Homo sapiens: one gene and its partners. The protein of the gene in region 1 interacts with the protein of each later gene in a pairwise test. Each region holds a gene or a part of one and is shown in the gene's direction. Other genes may lie near its edges.

The links. Proteins that work in one complex are often made in the same cells at the same time.
Region 2: the proteins of SPG21 (region 1) and TXNL4B interact in binary tests that used the Homo sapiens proteins (3 or more experiments, as listed by UniProt).
Region 3: the proteins of SPG21 (region 1) and ARL6IP1 interact in binary tests that used the Homo sapiens proteins (3 or more experiments, as listed by UniProt).

Annotation. Positions count from the first base shown.
Region 1 is NC_000015.10:64,962,510-64,965,941, reverse strand, and holds the end of SPG21 (maspardin), read left to right. Parts: intron 1-481; coding exon 482-622; intron 623-2,205; coding exon 2,206-2,322; 3' UTR 2,323-2,920; downstream 2,921-3,432. UniProt on the Homo sapiens protein: May play a role as a negative regulatory factor in CD4-dependent T-cell activation.
Region 2 is NC_000016.10:72,090,621-72,097,623, reverse strand, and holds the start of TXNL4B (thioredoxin-like protein 4B), read left to right. Parts: upstream 1-4,003; 5' UTR 4,004-4,257; intron 4,258-6,837; 5' UTR 6,838-6,874; coding exon 6,875-7,003. Other genes in the region: DHX38 (pre-mRNA-splicing factor ATP-dependent RNA helicase PRP16), read right to left, coding at 615-802, 1,144-1,466. UniProt on the Homo sapiens protein: Essential role in pre-mRNA splicing. Required in cell cycle progression for S/G(2) transition.
Region 3 is NC_000016.10:18,791,550-18,798,588, reverse strand, and holds the end of ARL6IP1 (ADP-ribosylation factor-like protein 6-interacting protein 1), read left to right. Parts: intron 1-544; coding exon 545-664; intron 665-3,007; coding exon 3,008-3,125; intron 3,126-3,905; coding exon 3,906-3,990; intron 3,991-5,218; coding exon 5,219-5,337; 3' UTR 5,338-6,920; downstream 6,921-7,039. UniProt on the Homo sapiens protein: Positively regulates SLC1A1/EAAC1-mediated glutamate transport by increasing its affinity for glutamate in a PKC activity-dependent manner.

The DNA of each region.
Region 1 (3,432 bases):
TCACCTGAGGTCAGGAGTTTGAGACCAGCCTGGCCAACATGGTGAAACCCCATCTCTACTAAAAATGCAAAAATTAGCCAGGCGTGATGGCGCATGCCTGTAGTCCCAGGTACTTAGGAGGCTGAGGCAGGAGAATCACTTGAGCCCAGGAGGTGGAGATTGCAGTGAGCCGAGATCACACCACTGCACTCTACCTCAAAAAAAAAAAAAGAATTTCCCCCCACCAAAAGAATGCAGGAGATGCTGTGCAGCAAAATCTGTAGCTAATGTCTTCGGTTGGAGTTATAAGTCACCAGGGATCAGCAGTGGAGGTAGTTCAGGCTGCTGGGGGTTCAGGATTGTCTTCATATGAAAGGAATACTTAGGGTAACATTTCCATAATGTGAAAAGAACATATTAAAACACTAGTTGATTACAGCTTTCTGTATGTGTGTGTGTGTTTTACCTTTCCTATGGTGCTGAAGCTTTGTGTTTTTTAAAGGTGTTTGATCAGAGTGCGCTTTCAACTGAAGCTAAAGAAGAAATGTACAAGCTGTATCCTAATGCCCGAAGAGCTCATCTGAAAACAGGAGGCAATTTCCCATACCTGTGCAGAAGTGCAGAGGTCAATCTTTATGTACAGGTAAGGCCTAGCTTGAAACCCAGAGCACTCTGAGCCCAACATATGTTTGCAACATAAAGACTTCTTTTAATGGACTAGTTAGGGAATCAGTGAACTACAGAATTCCTTGTAGAAATGAGGCATTGACTTGATAAAAGTGGTTTACATTTATAACTTGTAGGAGAATTTGAACAGGTATATTAGAGATCCCCCAGTGACTCTCTGGCCACCATCCCTTTTCTAAGGACAGCAGGCCTGCATTCACACACTGAGGTTACTATTGGTATGATGTGACCTTGCCCTCTGGACACAGTGAATTCCATCAGAGCAAGACACCAGACCTAAATGGGGTCAATCTGAGTCCTGTGAAGTGACTTCTTGATCTAATTTTAATGCATTAAAAGAAAACCCTACCAGGCGTAGTGGCTCATGCCTGTAATCTCAGCACTTTGCGAGGCTGAGGCAGGCAGATCACAAGGTCAGGAGGTCAAGACCAGCCTGGCCAATATGGTGAAACCGTCTCTACTAAAAATACAAAAAAAATTAGCTGGACGTGGTGGTGCACACCTGTAGTCCCAGCTACTCGGGAGGCTGAGGCAGAAGAATCACTTGAATCCTGGAGGCAGAGGTTGCAGTGAGCCGAGGTCACGCCATTGCACTCCAGCCTGGGCAACAGAACAAGACTCCGTCTCAAAAAAAAAGAAAAGAAAAGAAAGCCCTAACAAACACCATCCCTTCATACTCTAACTAAATGGATAATAGAATAGCAGTGAGGGGTGAGTGCCCTGGCAGTTTGGCAAGATGAATCAAGAGCCTTAAAAAACCAGTTATATCCTGGCCACGCATGGTGGCTCACACCTGTAATCCCAAAAACCAGTCATATCCCTTGATCCTGTCATCCCCTTATAGAAGACAGGATCCTAAACAGGAATACTTGATGCCCAGAGATATTCATCATAGCAGCACTAGTCACAGTAGCAGAAGATTGGAAGGACCTAACTCACAGCAGCAGAAGGGAAGGGTAAACATCTCATGAGCATGCACCATCTAAGATGTCTCAGGAGACTCTGCAGGGACTCAGGGAGACTGCTCAGGGAGTGAGGAACAAAGATCCCAAATGTGGTTTCAAAAAATTGTTTGACTTTTCTCTATTTAGTATGTCTTAGTCTGTAAATTTTAGAAGTATAAAACATTTGTCCACTATGGTGATGTTTTCCTACCAAACTTTTTATAGAAGGCAGTATACATTTTACTCTGTAATGCAGCCATTTAAAACAATGATTCTGGCAGGGTGCAGTGGCTCACACCTGTAATCTGGCACTTTGGGAGGCCGAGGCAGATGGATCACTTGAGGCCAGGAGTTCAAAACCAGCCTGGCCAACATGGTGAAACCCTGTCTCTACTAAAAATACAAAAATTAGCTGGGCATGGTGGCGGGCACCTGTAATCCCAGCTACTCGGGAGGCTGAGGCAGGAGAATTGGGTGAACCCGGGAGGCGGAGGTTGGAGTGAACCAAGATAGTGCCACTGCACTCCAGCCTGGGCAACAAGAGTGACACTCCAGCTCAAAAAATAAATAAAATAATGATTCTGCATTTCAACAGATACATTTGCTGCAATTCCATGGAACCAAATACGCGGCCATTGACCCATCAATGGTCAGTGCCGAGGAGCTTGAGGTGCAGAAAGGCAGCCTTGGCATCAGCCAGGAGGAGCAGTAGTGTGTCTCTCGCTGTCAATGATGAGTTGACCCGGTGTGTTCTTGTATAGTCAGTGGCATCAGCACCCGTCAGCCAGCCTTTTCCTTCAGGTTCGTCAGGCTCACCGGTTCTCACTGTGTCTGGGAAGTAGGACTGATGGTCATCTTCATGACAGGCGGCATCTCCACTAAGCCTGTGTAACTGTTCCCTCTTTGGTTTTCTTAGCTTTTGAATTTGAAGAAGTACTTTTGAAGACTCCCATTTTAAGAACCGTGCAAATTTTGCTACCAAAAGTCTTCACCACTGTGTTCTTAAGTGAATGTTAATTTCTGAGGTTTGGGACTTTGTGGTGGTTTTTTTCTTCTTTTCTTTTCCATTCTTCTTTCTTTCTTTTTATGTTGTTTGCTGTAAATGCTGCACATCCAGATTGCATATCAGGACATTGGTTATTTTATGCTTTCTTGGATATAACCATGATCAGAGTGCCATGGCCACTACCCCACTGTTTGCTCTCCTGCAAATCAACTGCTTTTAATTTACACTTAAACAAATTGTTTTGAGTGTTAGCTACTGCCTTTCTAGATATTAGTCATTTGGAATAAAAATTCAATTTAACTGAGTCGCTTTTGTGATTATTGTTGCTGCCCAACTGGGCTACACAGGCCTAGGACTTTCTGAGAAGTAGGTCATGGTTGCCAATTCTGTGTGACTTTGGGTAAGTTACTTAATCTCCCTGAAGTACAGTTTGCACATCATAAAATAACCCTAAGCTATCATTTATTGATCTGCTACTGTGTGCCAGGTACTTTTCTCGTCTTCTTTCCCCTGAGTGAAAATGCTTAAACCCACATGAAGTAGAGAAAATGGCATAATGAATGATGTTCCCATCATCCAGCTTCAAAAATTATCAACTCTCAGACAGTCTTGTTCATCTTTTCTTTTTTTTTTTTTTGAGACAGAGTTTCGCTCTTGTTGCCCAGGCTGGAGTGCAATGACGTGATCTCGGCTCACCGCAACCTCCGCCTCCCGGGTTCAAGCAATTCTTCTGCCTCAGCCTCCCAAGTAGCTGAGATTACAGGTATGCACCACCACGCCCGGCTAATTTTGTATTTTTAGTAGAGATGGGGTTTC
Region 2 (7,003 bases), on another chromosome or scaffold:
CATCTTCACCCTAGAGAAAGGACAGGCTGCCCACTCACTCACAGGTGCAACCTGCACTGCTCGAATGTGATCCGTGGACTCCTGAAACTCACCTATCCCCATTCTCCCAAGGGGGAAAAATAGTTACTGCCTAGAAAATTTCAAACCCACAGTAACAGTTATTTTCCAGCAAGAATTCAAAAAATACTAGTGCGAGTTTACAGTGAATCATTTTTTTTAATAGTTACAATTCTATCAGCTATAAAACTTAATACTGAGCAAGGACAGCATTGGATTTTTTTGTCTAGCTTTGTTCCATAGCACTGTCCTTTCTCTATCACCAATACTATTAGAAATGCTGGTCTCTTATACATATTTACCCATTATCTCCTTTATCATCAATTTTCATAATAAAACGAAGACCACACACTCAAGGAGAGCAGCTATGTTACAGGCAACAGCTCTTTTCTTAAACTAGTATTCCCAATCCCAGCAGGGTCAAAACCACTCAGGCGGACATCATGCAAATAGGACTCCCTAACAAATGGGTGTTGCAAAAACTCCTGCAACAAGAAAAAGGCTGACACATTTATTCGAATGCTAATGGACAATAGGAACTGTGCTGGACAGTTTACCTCTGTCCCTCTTGCGGTCATAGTCTCGATCCCGCGATTTCTCCTTCTTCCAATCCTTTTCTTCTTTGGACGAGGCATAGACACCATGTTCCCGCCGCTCCCGCTCTCTCTGCCGACTGCGTTCCCAAAACTCTTCGCTCACACCACCCGGATGGGATGGAGTCTCTACCCGAGCAGACCGATAATGTCTGAAACAGGGAGAGCAACTGGTAAAGGCCCCTCCATAGGAGAAAAACTCTGCCCTAAAACCTTTGGCTGTCCAAACAAGTGATCTGTCCTTTTCCACTTTCTCTCCCTGGGACGCAGGCTCACATATGGCAACAACCCAAGGCATTTCTAACCTCTACCATCTCGTCTTTATTCACCTTTGTTTTTCCCCACAAATTCCTACCTACCTTCAGTATTACAGAATCATAATAAAATCATAAAGCTCTAAATCTCCAACAGGAAAACTGAGAGATAAACATGAGCTGTTATTTTCCAGCCTCCGTTCGCTTCCCTCTGGGCTAACCCATACTAAGGCCTTTACCTGTCTTTCCGGATATTTTGGCCAGCCTGGTCACCGCCCTCTTCCTCAGCATCCTTCTGGTCATCCTTGCTCTCTTCCCAGTCCTTGTAGGAGGAGACTTTGGACTTCTTCTTGTCCTCCCCATCGTCCTTCTCCTCTCGCTCTCTCCGTTTCAGGGAAGCCAGCAAGTCCAGTCCGAGTAATGAAGGGCGGGGAGCAGGAGCCTTGAAGACATGCTGCTCGCTGGCCGCACTTTTGGACTTGCAAATAAGACCACCAACCTGACAGTCCAGATCAGTGCCTTCCAATCGATGGATCGAGGCATCCTCACTGGTGTCCCCCATCACAGGATCTGGGATTTCTCTGGAAGGAAGGCAAACCATTTGGTACTAGAGAAGGCTCAGCTCTACTATATCCCACAATAAATGCAGTTATGGTTATATGTAGGTGATTAACCTTCCCCATCTCCCCTTAAGACCAGGACTACTTTTGCTCCCTCTCTCCAAGACCTTTCCATCAAGTCACTGCCTATCTCCAAAGATTCTCCTATTCCAACCCCCAATAAACACCAAAATAGATACACACACACACACACACACACACACACCCCATACATTCCTCCCCAGCCCCCACAAAGATCCAAGAGGCAATAAAAAGTCTCACTAAGGGACACTTTCTAGAGCCTGATGTCAGCAGCTGTAACAGGGATGTAGGGAAAACACCACTAAATTTGAATCAGAAACCTCAATTAGAAACCAGGCTCTTGACACTTTCTACCTGTATGATGGTAAGCAAATAACTTAATCTTTGTTTAGCCATAATTTCATATCTATTAAATGGAAAAAATTTTTACCTTATCTAATCCATGAAGCTATTGTGAGAATCAAACAAAAAGTGTATGTGAAACCATAAAGAGTAGCTCTTTATGTAACCATAACAGTTAACATAAATGTAACTGCTACATTGTATTATTTGCTATCCTCCTATATACTGTTGGTCCCTCACCCATTTTTTTACATGAGTTCTACCTCTTCCTCTCTTTAAACAACAGGTACAGCAGCACAGAGATGGGGCAGAAGGCTACCGTCCATGTTCTCCATACTTTAGTGGCTTTTCTTGGCCTAGCTGCGTTTTACAGAAAACAATTTACTCACAGCAGCCAAAATCAGTTTAATAACAATCCATGTTCACCAAAAATATTTATGAGAAACACCAGGTTAGGAAAAGGTGTTACTGAGAAGTATTTAAGTGGCTACAAGACTTCTGGCACTCAAGTTGGAACAAGCTCCTCTTTACCTCTCACTACACATCTGCCACTCATCAACATATATCAGTTCTGGATGCTTGGATAATTCCTCTCATTCCAACAAGTTAGCAAAGCAAAGGAGATGCCACCAGAATCCAGAATTGTTTACCAAACTCTAATTAAATGCACAGCTCTACAGAGTATTGCCAAACAGACTGGACACATAATATTAATGCAGAAACAAGAGTTACATTTTGAAAATGCCATCAGGCAGAACAGAAAAAAAGAAAGCTGCATATTGGTGACATCTGTGCGCATGTGAGGAAATCCACACAAGAAGGTAAAGATATACAGGCTCTACTCAATAGTTGTCTAAACTAGGAAAGGTACCCTGGACTGCCATTCTACGCAGTTGAGAGAACACTGGATGTGTTGTTGACTGCTGTAGCTCAATGTCTAGCAAAATAAGCGTTTGATAAATTAAAAAATGAATTAATTTAAACTTATTAAAGGAGGACAGGAACCCAAACATTTCTGGAGACAGCAAGGGAAGATTCCAGCAACACAGGACAAGGAGACAGCCAGAGAGAACTTCATTAGCTGCTGAGACGAACAAATAAGGAGCTAAAGAGCAAGATTCTTGAGAAGGATTAATGGCAAAGAAACTACAAGGCGTACGAGAAAGCCAGGGAAGAAAGAACCTGGATTCATTCATTCAACAATTATTCACTGAGGGTGTCCCTGAGCCAATTGCTGTTCTCGGCGATAGCAACAGAGAACAAGACAAAAATCCCCGCCCACCTGGAGCTGACATTCTAGTAGAAGAGATCGCCCACCAGATTGCCTGGTATAAATGACACTGTGAGAGAGCAGAGGAAGACACAAGGAGTCCTACTCGGGCTCGGTGACAGTCTGGGGTGGGTTAAAGCGGAGGCCTGGGAGAGGGACCAAGGCCACTCCAGGCAGCATCCCTGGATCTCAGCGAGGCCGCTCCAGGCAGCAGGATTTGACCAGAGCAAGGAGGAAGGCCAAGGCGGCCAGGACGGATGCAGCATCCCTGAGGTGAGTAAGGCAAGGTGGGTGACAGGGACGACAGAGGAACTCCCCAAACTGGGGCCCGGACCTGAGCAGGGGACCAATATCCGCCGCCTAGAGCCGCCATGATTACAGAAGGGCAGGCCAGGAAGGAAGAAGGGACTCTCACCTCACCAAGCGCGACTCTTGGGACCCTTCTGTCCCGGATTCTGGGGCGCCGGCGCTGCCACCCCTCGCTCAGACAGGCTCAAGGAGCCAAAATCCACACCTTGAAAGCGGCCATTATTGTCCCTTAATACTTTGCGCGCCCCCTCTATCCGCCCAAAGCTACCATAGAGAGCAGCCTGGAACACGCCCGATTCCTGGATCCAAGTGTGGAACGGTACGCCAACAGGCTCTCAAGGCCTCCTCTGGGGCTCTGATCAGACACTTCCGAGTCTCCTTGTGACCAATCACTCTTAGCCTAAGAGACTACATCCCGCCTCTAGTCTGGGGGCAGGAAAAGGAGGGGAAAAAGGTCGACCATCTTTAATACGGGCGGAGGTGACGCCTAGCTTCCGGTCAGAGCCGAGCAAGGTGGGCGGTGACTAGAAGCTCTTCCGTTTATTGGGCTGTTGAGCGGGGGCCGACCGACGGCCAGGAGTTTCTTTTCTGCGCTTGTGCGTTTTCTGTTCGGTTTCCTTCCCGCTAGCGGGGCCACGAGGGTTGCTAGGCAACAGCCCCTGGGTGACTTGGTCTTAGGGTCCTGTCCGGCTTGGGGCTGATGAAAGGAGCTGTCCGCGCCCGGGCTCTTCCGAGAAGTGGTTGCTGACAGCCACAAAGTGAAAGGGAGTGAGGCGGCGTGGACGAGTAAGGTAAGTGCTGGGGTCCCTTAGCGCTTGTGGGCCAGGAGCAGCGCAACACAGGTGACTTTAAATATGTATATCGGATATTTTGGAAAATGGAGATGCGCGCCCGGCTGTAAATAAAAATCACCCATGCGTTCACACGCAGAGATGACCACTGATTTCCAGTTGTTTTTCTGGAATACATTGTAGTAAGATTCTGTACAAAAGTGAGTTCAAGCTTTTTTTCTTTTTTTGGTGTTTCTGCAGTTGTGGCGCGCGCCTGAGGTTCCAGCTACTCGGGAGGCTGAGGCGGGAGGATTGCTTGAGCCTGGGGAGTTGAGACCAGCCTGGGCAACATAGCGAAACCCCGCCTCAGAAAAAGAGAGGGAGAGAGGAAAGCAGTGGAGTTATTGGTCAAAGAGTATGTCAGTTTTCTTTCCAGAAAGGTTTTGTGTCTGCATTCCAGCAGGAACTCCCTGTGCCTGCCCCTACCACTATCTTGTTTAATTTTTGCCAATTCAGTGACTTTGTAAACATATGTTTTAATTTGCTTTTCTTTGCTTACTGGTAAAGCTTAACTTTTTAGTTTATTTACTGTCCATTTGTACGTCTTCTTTTGGGAATTCTCTGTGGGTATCATTTACTATGGACATTTTCTTAGATGTGGTCTCAGTTTTCCTCTCCTGCTTCCAACGTTTGTCCAGTTGCACCCCTAGCCTCACCACTAACAACTTTGTTCTCCCCTTACTTTCTCCTTTCGATCAGTAACACGGAGGAACTGCTGTTTGTTTGAATTCTAGTGGGACAGATCCGTCTTCTCTTTGACCTTCCCTTTCATTGGTAATTTGTTCTGCTGCTCACATCTGATGACGTCCCTTTGGGCCATCAATGTCCCTGTTTAAAGTATGACCTATAGCTGGAACAATCTTATTTCCTATGTGAATTTTAGTTAAATAATTCCTTTTTTTTTTTTTGGAGACGGAGCTTCGCTCTTGTTGCCTTGCCCAGGCTGGAGTGCAGTGGAGCGATCCTAGCTCACTGCAACCTCCGCCTCCAGGGTTCAAGCAATTCTCCTGCCTCAGCCTCCTGAGTAGCTTGGATTACAGGTGGCATCTGCCACCACGCCCGGCTAATTTTTTGTATTTTTAGTAGAGACGGGGTTTCACCATGTTGGCCAGGCTGGTCTCGAATTCCTGGCCATAGGTGATCCACCCTCCTTGGCCTCCCAAAGTGCTGGGATTACAGGGGTGAGCCTGGCCTAATTCGTATCTTAAAATGTGACTTGTGACAAAAAAAATAGGAAAAGAAATCCTCCCTTTTCATATTTGGAACTGAATTCAAAATACCGACCATCTCAATGGAGTCTCTTATAGATGACCACAAAACTAAGCTTCTTTGTCAAAGAGTTTCTCAAAAATGAAATTTCTACCAATCATGAAAATAGATTATTGTAGTAGAAGGACCCCTGGACTAGAAATTTGGTGGCCTGTATTCTAGTCCTTGTCATTGTAGTAGAAAGTGCAACTGTAAGCAAGCTAGTTTGTAAAATGACGGGGTTGTATTAGGTCCCTTGTACCTCAGTATTTTATTATTTGTTTATGGTATTGTAGTTTTCACACACACTCTTAATTGATCTGTTTGCCGTGTAATGAGGTGCACCTAGTAAGGTGCACACGAAGAATCTTTAAGCCAGGACTTGTAATAATATAAAGTATACAATAAAGGACTGTTTAAAAAGTGTAACACATGCAAGAAATAATATGCTGCCATGACAGAGAATATGGATGTTCTCTATATAGAGATATGGGGCAATCTTCATAGGTTAGGTTTGAAATAATGAAAAGTGCTGAAGAGTAGATAAAGTGTGTGTGCTGAACATCTGCCATTGGTCCCTCCACAGCCATTCTTCATCCTCCTCTAGACTGCTCTGGGACAGGGAGGTTTGCCTGCCTCAACAGGCCCCTGCCCTCTGGTTCCAGTTGGAGTCAGCCGGTGGTTGCATGAGCAAAGGTCAGAGGGAGGGAGGAGAGTGGCTGCAACACCTAACAGCAGGCTGCCCTCCTATACACTGTCCTCTCCACTCACCTCTTTCTGCCACACAATTCTTATAACTGCTTCCTACCGTGGCTTCTTCCTCCCATGGCCTAGGGATGGGTACAGCATCCCGCTGTTACTAGCCCCAAAGTAGTACACTTTACCGTATTGTTTTTCTACACCTGCCTTAATTAAACTGCCTTCAAATTACCAAAGTTGAGAGTGTCATCGCTTTCCTGCTGGAACACTGATACAATAGGCTATCTTTTGGGGGTGGGGAGAGAGAGAAAAAAAATATCGGAACGCATATTTGTATTTTTTGGTGAATGCATAACAAAACTCTGAAAGATACATGAGAAACTAATGAAAGCAGTTATCTGGCCCGGGGGAGGGAACAATGAAAACTGGTTCCAAGGAGCAGGGACAAAGAGAGGGAAACTCCACAGTGTTACCTTTCTATGATGTTTCTTTCATACCATGTGAATACATTAGCTACTCTGTGAATTAATTTTTTTTAATGAGGGCTCACGCACTTAATCTAAACTGTCTTTAAACATTGCACCTTTATTTCAGGAGTGACAGTGAGGATTCACATTTGGGTTATTTCAAGATGAGCTTCCTACTGCCCAAGCTGACTAGCAAAAAGGAAGTAGACCAGGCGATAAAAAGTACTGCTGAGAAGGTGTTGGTTCTCAGGTTTGGGAGAGATGAAGATCCTGTCTGTCTGCAGCTAGATGAT
Region 3 (7,039 bases), on another chromosome or scaffold:
AAGAACCCATAAAGAATGTTTCTCATAAGCACTTCTAGTTTCCAGAATTTGTAGTACTTCTGTAAACTTGGTAACCTAAAGCACTTGAGTAAATCAGTGACTCGCAAACTTTTTGTCCTCCAGACACTTAAACTCTTTTTTTGTTATTATACTTTAAGTTCTGGGAAACATGTGTAGAATGTACAGGTTTGTTACATAGGTATATATACATGTGCCATGGTGGTTTGCTGCACCCATCAACCCTTCATCTACATTAGGTATTTCTCCTAATGCTATCCCTCCCCTAGTCCCCCACCTCCCTAAACTCTTAAAAAAGTGCTGAGAACTCCAAAGAGCTTTTGTCCATTGATATATACTTAACCACTGCAGCTATGATATCAGCATGTCACAAAGCCTCTGGAAAGCCACTTGTGAGAAAATTAGAAGAAAAATGGCAAATATCTCTGAGAGGCGGTGAATAGTTAAGTGAATAGTTAAGTTAGACATGTTTAGTTAGGAATAATAATGACTATGTTTTTCTAACCTTTATTAATTTTTTTAACAGGATTATCTACTATCTAGATCCATCTGTTCTGTCCGGCGTTTCCTGTTTTGTTATGTTTTTGTGCTTGGCTGACTACCTTGTTCCCATTCTAGCGCCTAGAATTTTTGGCTCCAATAAATGGTAGGTAGCATAATGATTTGGCAGTCTCATTTTTGTGTAGTTACTGAACTTGGTGGCTGTGATTAGTATGCTGTAAATAAGCAGAGATAATTGTCTAACCATCAGACACCTAAGCATTAGATTTATTGCTTTTATGTGAAGAATATTGTAACTGATTTGAATATAAACTATGAATTTTCTGTACTCCATAGTTCTTTTATGGTAAATGCACATATACATTTTTACATTTCCATTGATATTTAGGATAGTATAATAACTTCACAAATTATTTTTGAATGAATACAGAAAAGGAAACTGGCAGATTTTCATTCACATTCATTTAGCAATTATTTATTAAATGCCTACTGTGGCAGGCCCTGTAAAGTACTGTGAAATATTTTGACTTTTAAGATTGATCTTGTGTTAAGGCTGAGATACTGAGACACTGAGGCAGTGGAATGGCAGTTAACAAAGTGAATACCAAGTGTTTCCGAAGAGGTTCAAGCTGTATACACATGGGTTGCTGATTTTATTTATACCATTCTCTTTTTTTTTTTTTTTTTTGAGATGGAGGCTCGCTCTGTTGCCCAGGCTGGAGTGCAGTACGCTCTTGGCTCACTGCATGCTCCACCTCCCAGGTTCATGCCATTCTCTTGCCTCAGCCTCCCGAGTAGCTGGGACTACAGGTGCCCACCACCACACCTGGCTAATTTTTTTTTTTTTTATTTTTAGTAGAGACGGGGTTTCACCATGTTAGCCAGGATGGTCTCGATCTCCTGACCTTGTGATCCGCCCGCCTCGGCCTCCCAAAGTGCTGAGATTACAGGCGTGAGCCACCGTGCCCGGCCTATTTATACCATGAGGTTGCTTATGAACTCCTCAGATATAGTTAAGTGGATAAGGATCATATTAAAAGTATTTTAACTTTCTCTAGCATGTTGAGTTTTGATTCAAATAATCAGCCAAAATAGAAGTTGGAATAGATATTTTCTTCTCAGCTGCTATTCTATCCTTGGCTGTTTATTTTATTTGGTTAGTATTCTACTTGTGCCTTTGGTTGTTTGTATCTCAGAGGATAGCAAATTGCAAAATAATTCTGTAAATATAAGAATTTTAAATGTGTACCTTATGGATCTTTAAGAACAAATTCAAAGTTTGCTTAAATTATGATATAATTGACAATATTTAAAGGTGTTTCCCCCAACAGCAGAATGGATTAGTGTTAGGAACTGTCCAAATTGTTTTTCACTTGCAGTAATGAATCAATGTTGTTGGCTCTTTTGGGCAAGTTTCTGAATGTGCAGTATAACAGAGTTAGCAAAGGAAATAAATCACTGACCTTGGCCTTATTAGCCAGATAACATTCCAGTCTGCTAATTTATAACTCCTAGAGGAAAGTTTGCAGAAATAACCACTGATAGTTTCGTGATGTGACTCAGTTATTGATAGAGCAGATTTTGTTTATTTTTTGATCTTACAAGGAAGAAAGAATACTCTTTTGCATAGCCACAATCTAGCCTTGACCATGGGCAAGAAATAACATCTCATTGTTGAAAAGAAGTTCCAGGGCTCAGCAGAAATCCTTGTACTTTATCTATCACTGCAGTTTTACAGAGATGAGGGCTAGAGAAGAGAAGGCAACACATCCCTCAGCACAGGGCAATAATAGCAGCCATTATAGCTGTGTAGCGAAGACAGTGCAAAGGCAATTAAAAAAATCAGAACCAAGAAAAACATTATAAATATAAAAGGTTTTCTTGGAGGGTCTCTTGTTGGATTTTTACTGCTGTGTTGTTTGTTGATTATATTTTCCCTCCCTAGGGATAAATTTACAAAGAAGAATTTAGATTTGAGCTGTTTATTGCTGCCTTGTCATCAGATGTATGAAGCCCAGTTGGGGGTGTTATGTGTTAAATGCCAGTAGTTAGTATCTTACTAAGGAGTGTTCAAATACAGTTGTTCGGTGGGATTCTGGTAGGTATAGTGCAGCATTTACTAGGATCTAAAGAATATTTAGGAATAGCAAAATCAAATTTATACTGATTTCTTTATGGCCCATAGAAGTCATGAGTCTTTTACTACCATTAAATAAATGTGGCTTCAGAGCCAGAGATGATCCTTTCTTTATCACACGCACACACACACACACTCTCTCTCTCACACACATAGTTTATGTAAATACTTACTCCTGTGCTATAAAAGGTGTCTTAATGGTGGAAGGATTTTTTCACCTACATAAGATAATGGTGAAACATTGTTTTTATTTTTATTTTCTTTAGAAGATAGCTCTTAAATTGAACAGGGTGTCATGTTTTTGTCTACTGTAACGATTTGTTTATAGCAAAAGGCAAATTTCTTTTCTAGGACCACTGAACAACAGCAAAGATTCCATGAAATTTGCAGCAATCTAGTAAAAACTCGACGCAGAGCTGTGGGTTGGTGGAAACGCCTCTTCACACTAAAGGAAGAAAAACCTAAGATGGTACTTTTTTTGCTTTGACTTAAGTACAGTAAAATTTTAAGATTTGAGTCAATTCGCCTTTTTGTCTTAATAGCTATAATTTGAAAATTATTCATTGGTTAATTCCTAAGTACATTCATAAATGTTTACCTGTATTAATTAGACTGAATCATTTTAAAGTTAAAAATTACATTTTTGCATTTAATTTTTTATTCTAATAAAACAAAATTCTTCTGTTTCATTTTTCTTACTGAAATAATAGTAAAAGACATATACTTAGAAAGCATCTGTTTAGGCCGGGCACAGTGGCTAATGCCTATAATCCCAGCTACATGGAAGGCTGAGGATCACTTGAGCCCTGGAGGTCGAGGCTGCAGTGAGCTGTGTTTGCGCAGTGAGCTGTTTGCACCACTGCACTCCAGCCTTTGTGACAGAATGAGACTCTGTCTCAAAAAAAAAAAAAAAAAAGGAAAGCATCTGTTCATCTGTTCTCTTATCTGTAAGCTTCACGTCGTGAGGCTGTTCCGTGAAGTTATTAACTGAAAAGATCGTATAATTTATATCATAAAATATTTACATACAGAATTGCAGTAATTCTAGGAAGAAATGTATCCAAATTCTATAAAGTAGATCCAATGGAATAGGTTTTTAAATCTAAGAATTTTTAAAGAAAAGTGATAATAAAAGCTAAATTATTTCCCGAACTTTGAAACACATTCTTCTTTAATTGACAAATAAAAATTACATATATTTATGGTGTCACATGAAGTTTTGATATTAAATTCTTGTTTTCATTGCTAGTACTTCATGACCATGATCGTTTCCCTTGCTGCGGTTGCTTGGGTGGGACAACAAGTCCACAACCTGCTTCTCACCTACCTGATAGGTAAGTCTTTGAGGAAAAACTACAGGCACATCCTGGCCAGTGAAATTTAACTGTAACTTCGTCAGTAAACAGCTGAATACTTCCTAAGTTTTAGACACCGAAAAGGAACTGTGGGAATATGGAAAGATTATTATGGTCTCATAGAAAGTGAAAACAATGCAATAACCAAGGTAGAAAGTAATGTGCAAGAGGTAAAAATAAGCAATGATTATTTTCTGAGGTGGAAGAGGGGATGAGAGCAGAAGTTTCTGGGGATACATCCCAGTGGAAGTAATTGATTTCATGTTGCTTCCTCCCATTACTGAGTTTAATAATGTAGGAACCTGCCTTCTTTAAAATGTAATAACTGGCTGGTCACGGTGGCTCAGCCTGTAATCCCAGCACTTTGGGAGGCTGAGGCAGGTGGATCACTTGAGGCCGGGAGTTTGAGACCAGCCTAGCCAACATGGCGAAACCCTGTCTCTACTAAAAATACAAAAATTAGTTGGATGTGGTGGTACACACCTGTAGTCCCAGCTACCTAGGAGGCTGAGGCATGAGAATCACCTGAACCCAGGAGGTGGAGGTTACAGTGAGCTGAGATCACACCACTGCACTCACCACCCCCCCCACCCACCACCGCCATACACACGTAATAACCTCTGATCACCTGAGGTCAGGAGTTGGAGACCGCCTGGCCAACATTGCGAAATCACATGTGTACTAAAAATACAAAAATTAGCCAGGCGTGGCGGCAGGCACCTGTAATCCCAGCTACTCTACTTGGTAGGGTGAGGCAGGAGAATCGCTTGAACCTGGGAGGTGGAGGTTGCAGTGAACCGAGATTGTGCCATTGCACTCCAGCCTGGGCAAAAAGAGTGAGACTTGTCGCTGGGTGTGGTGGCTCACGCCCGTAATCCCAGCACTCTGGGAGGCTGAAGCAGGCGGATCACCTGAGATTGGGAGTTCGAGACCAGCCTGACTAACATGGAGAAACCCCATCTCTACTAAAAATACAAAATTAGTCAGGCGTAGTGGCGCATGCCTGTAATCCCAGCTACTTGGGTAGCTGAGGCAGGAGAATCGCTTGAACCTGGGAGGCGGAGGTTGCGGTGAGCCAAGATTGCGCCATTGCACTCCAGCCTGGGCAACAAAAGTGAAACTTTGTCTCAAAAAAAAAAAAAAAAAGTAATAACCTTTAGCAGGTTAATTGCTGCCTCCTTAATGTTGGGTTTTTTTTTATTTTAAGTGACTTCCTTACTATTGCTTCCTGGACTAAACCAACATGGAATCATTTTGAAGTACATTGGAATGGCCAAGAGGGAGATAAACAAACTTCTCAAACAAAAAGAAAAGAAAAACGAATGATTCATCTGCTTTAATCAGTGTGATTAATGCAGCACCCATTGCCCCGGGAACCGTTTCTGCTGTACTATCTGGATACTAAAATGTTACGGAAGTAGCTCTTTGTTCTCCCTCACTCTGCCCTTAGTTAATAGAAATTCAGACTCGCCAAGTAAGGCTTCGTGCATAGTGTCTTCATGTCGCGTATAGTTGAGCGCGTTCTTAGCAGTTGGCTTCATGGACAACTCATTAGTGTTTTGACTTTTCTTACCCAGCGTTAATTGAATTCTTGCTTTTAGACAACTTCCTTTTTGTAGTGGTGAACCTTGCCCTTTAGTACAGTTCAAGTGAATCTGGATAATTGTTCATCTTTGCTTTAGCTTAGATACCATGTAGTGGTCTGTGGCTACAGGAAGCTGGTTCTGTCTGCTTCCACAGTCTGCTTAAAAAACTGTCTGACTTCGTGAATATAGAGACCAAGTTTACCACTTCTGATGAAGAGACCAATTAAGATTCATTCCTCATTCTGTTTCTTTCCAGTGGGAGAAGAGTCCCCATGAAATAAGATGAAACTGATTCCATGCACTAGTACATGTAGGCTTCTCCCTTGTGCAAAGCTTAGCAATTTGTAGGAAACTTTGATCTTTTTGTCCAAGAAAAGGAATGTCTGACAGGCTTAAGCTTTCGTCCCCTTGCACTTAGACTCGAAGTTAGTAAATCCTTAAAGGCTTTTTAATAGCAGACTTCCAAAAGATTGCATTTAGGATTTCTAGCATGCTTTTAATTTCAGATTTTCAGCTGACATTAGCTATAGTATACAGTAGGTTAAGACTCATGTCTATGACTTTCACTCTAAGACTGGCAAAAGGACAGCAGTCTTCTATGTTTAGTCAATATTCATTTCAGTAGAAGATAATCTTATCTAATTTTTGAGACCAGAATAAGCCTTTTAAGGTAAACCTCAAAATTATCATTTTATGGTAATACTGACCATTTTAGTCCCCTAGGTTTGACATGGGAGATAGTGACTACACTGGTGTCTGACTTTTTTCCTAGAGATTTCTCCCTGAAAAATACAAGGGCTGTTGGTGAGAGCAGACTTGAGGTGATGATAGTTGGCCTCTGGTCTACAAAGATTTCATAACTCCTTGGAAAGCTTCTTATAATCATTCTTAACTTCTTGGTAGCTAGAAATTTAGAGTAGTTGAAATCTTTAGGAATGAACTTCTGAGGGCCAAAAAATGTGACTGACGGGAACAATTCTTAAACTGATTAACTAGCTGTAATATAGTTTTGTGAATTTATTGCACTGATGTTGTACCTTGTGGTATATCTGTCCCTATTAAATAAGTGTTGTTTTCTCCTCTTTAATATTGCTGTGAACAGTGGTGCCCATTGTAGCATATGTTTGATTTTTTTTTATTATTTCATAAGAAAACTACGTTAATTTTACCTTACTTTCATTGTAAATAAGCCTGTCTTCCTATCTGGATTTTTTGTGTGCATACATATTCTACTGATTAACTACTTTTGCAGTTTTAATCCTGTATTATTTCTTCTACTTTGTTTTGTGTAAAAGGGGAAAAAATAAAAAAAGCTGGAATCTTCATGTCTCACTTTCTTTATAACTTAGCCAATATAATATTTATGATTGGATTTATGAATCTGATTAATGAAGTACCCTGTGTGGTCCTTAGATGTCTATAAGGTACCCTACCTGTAATCC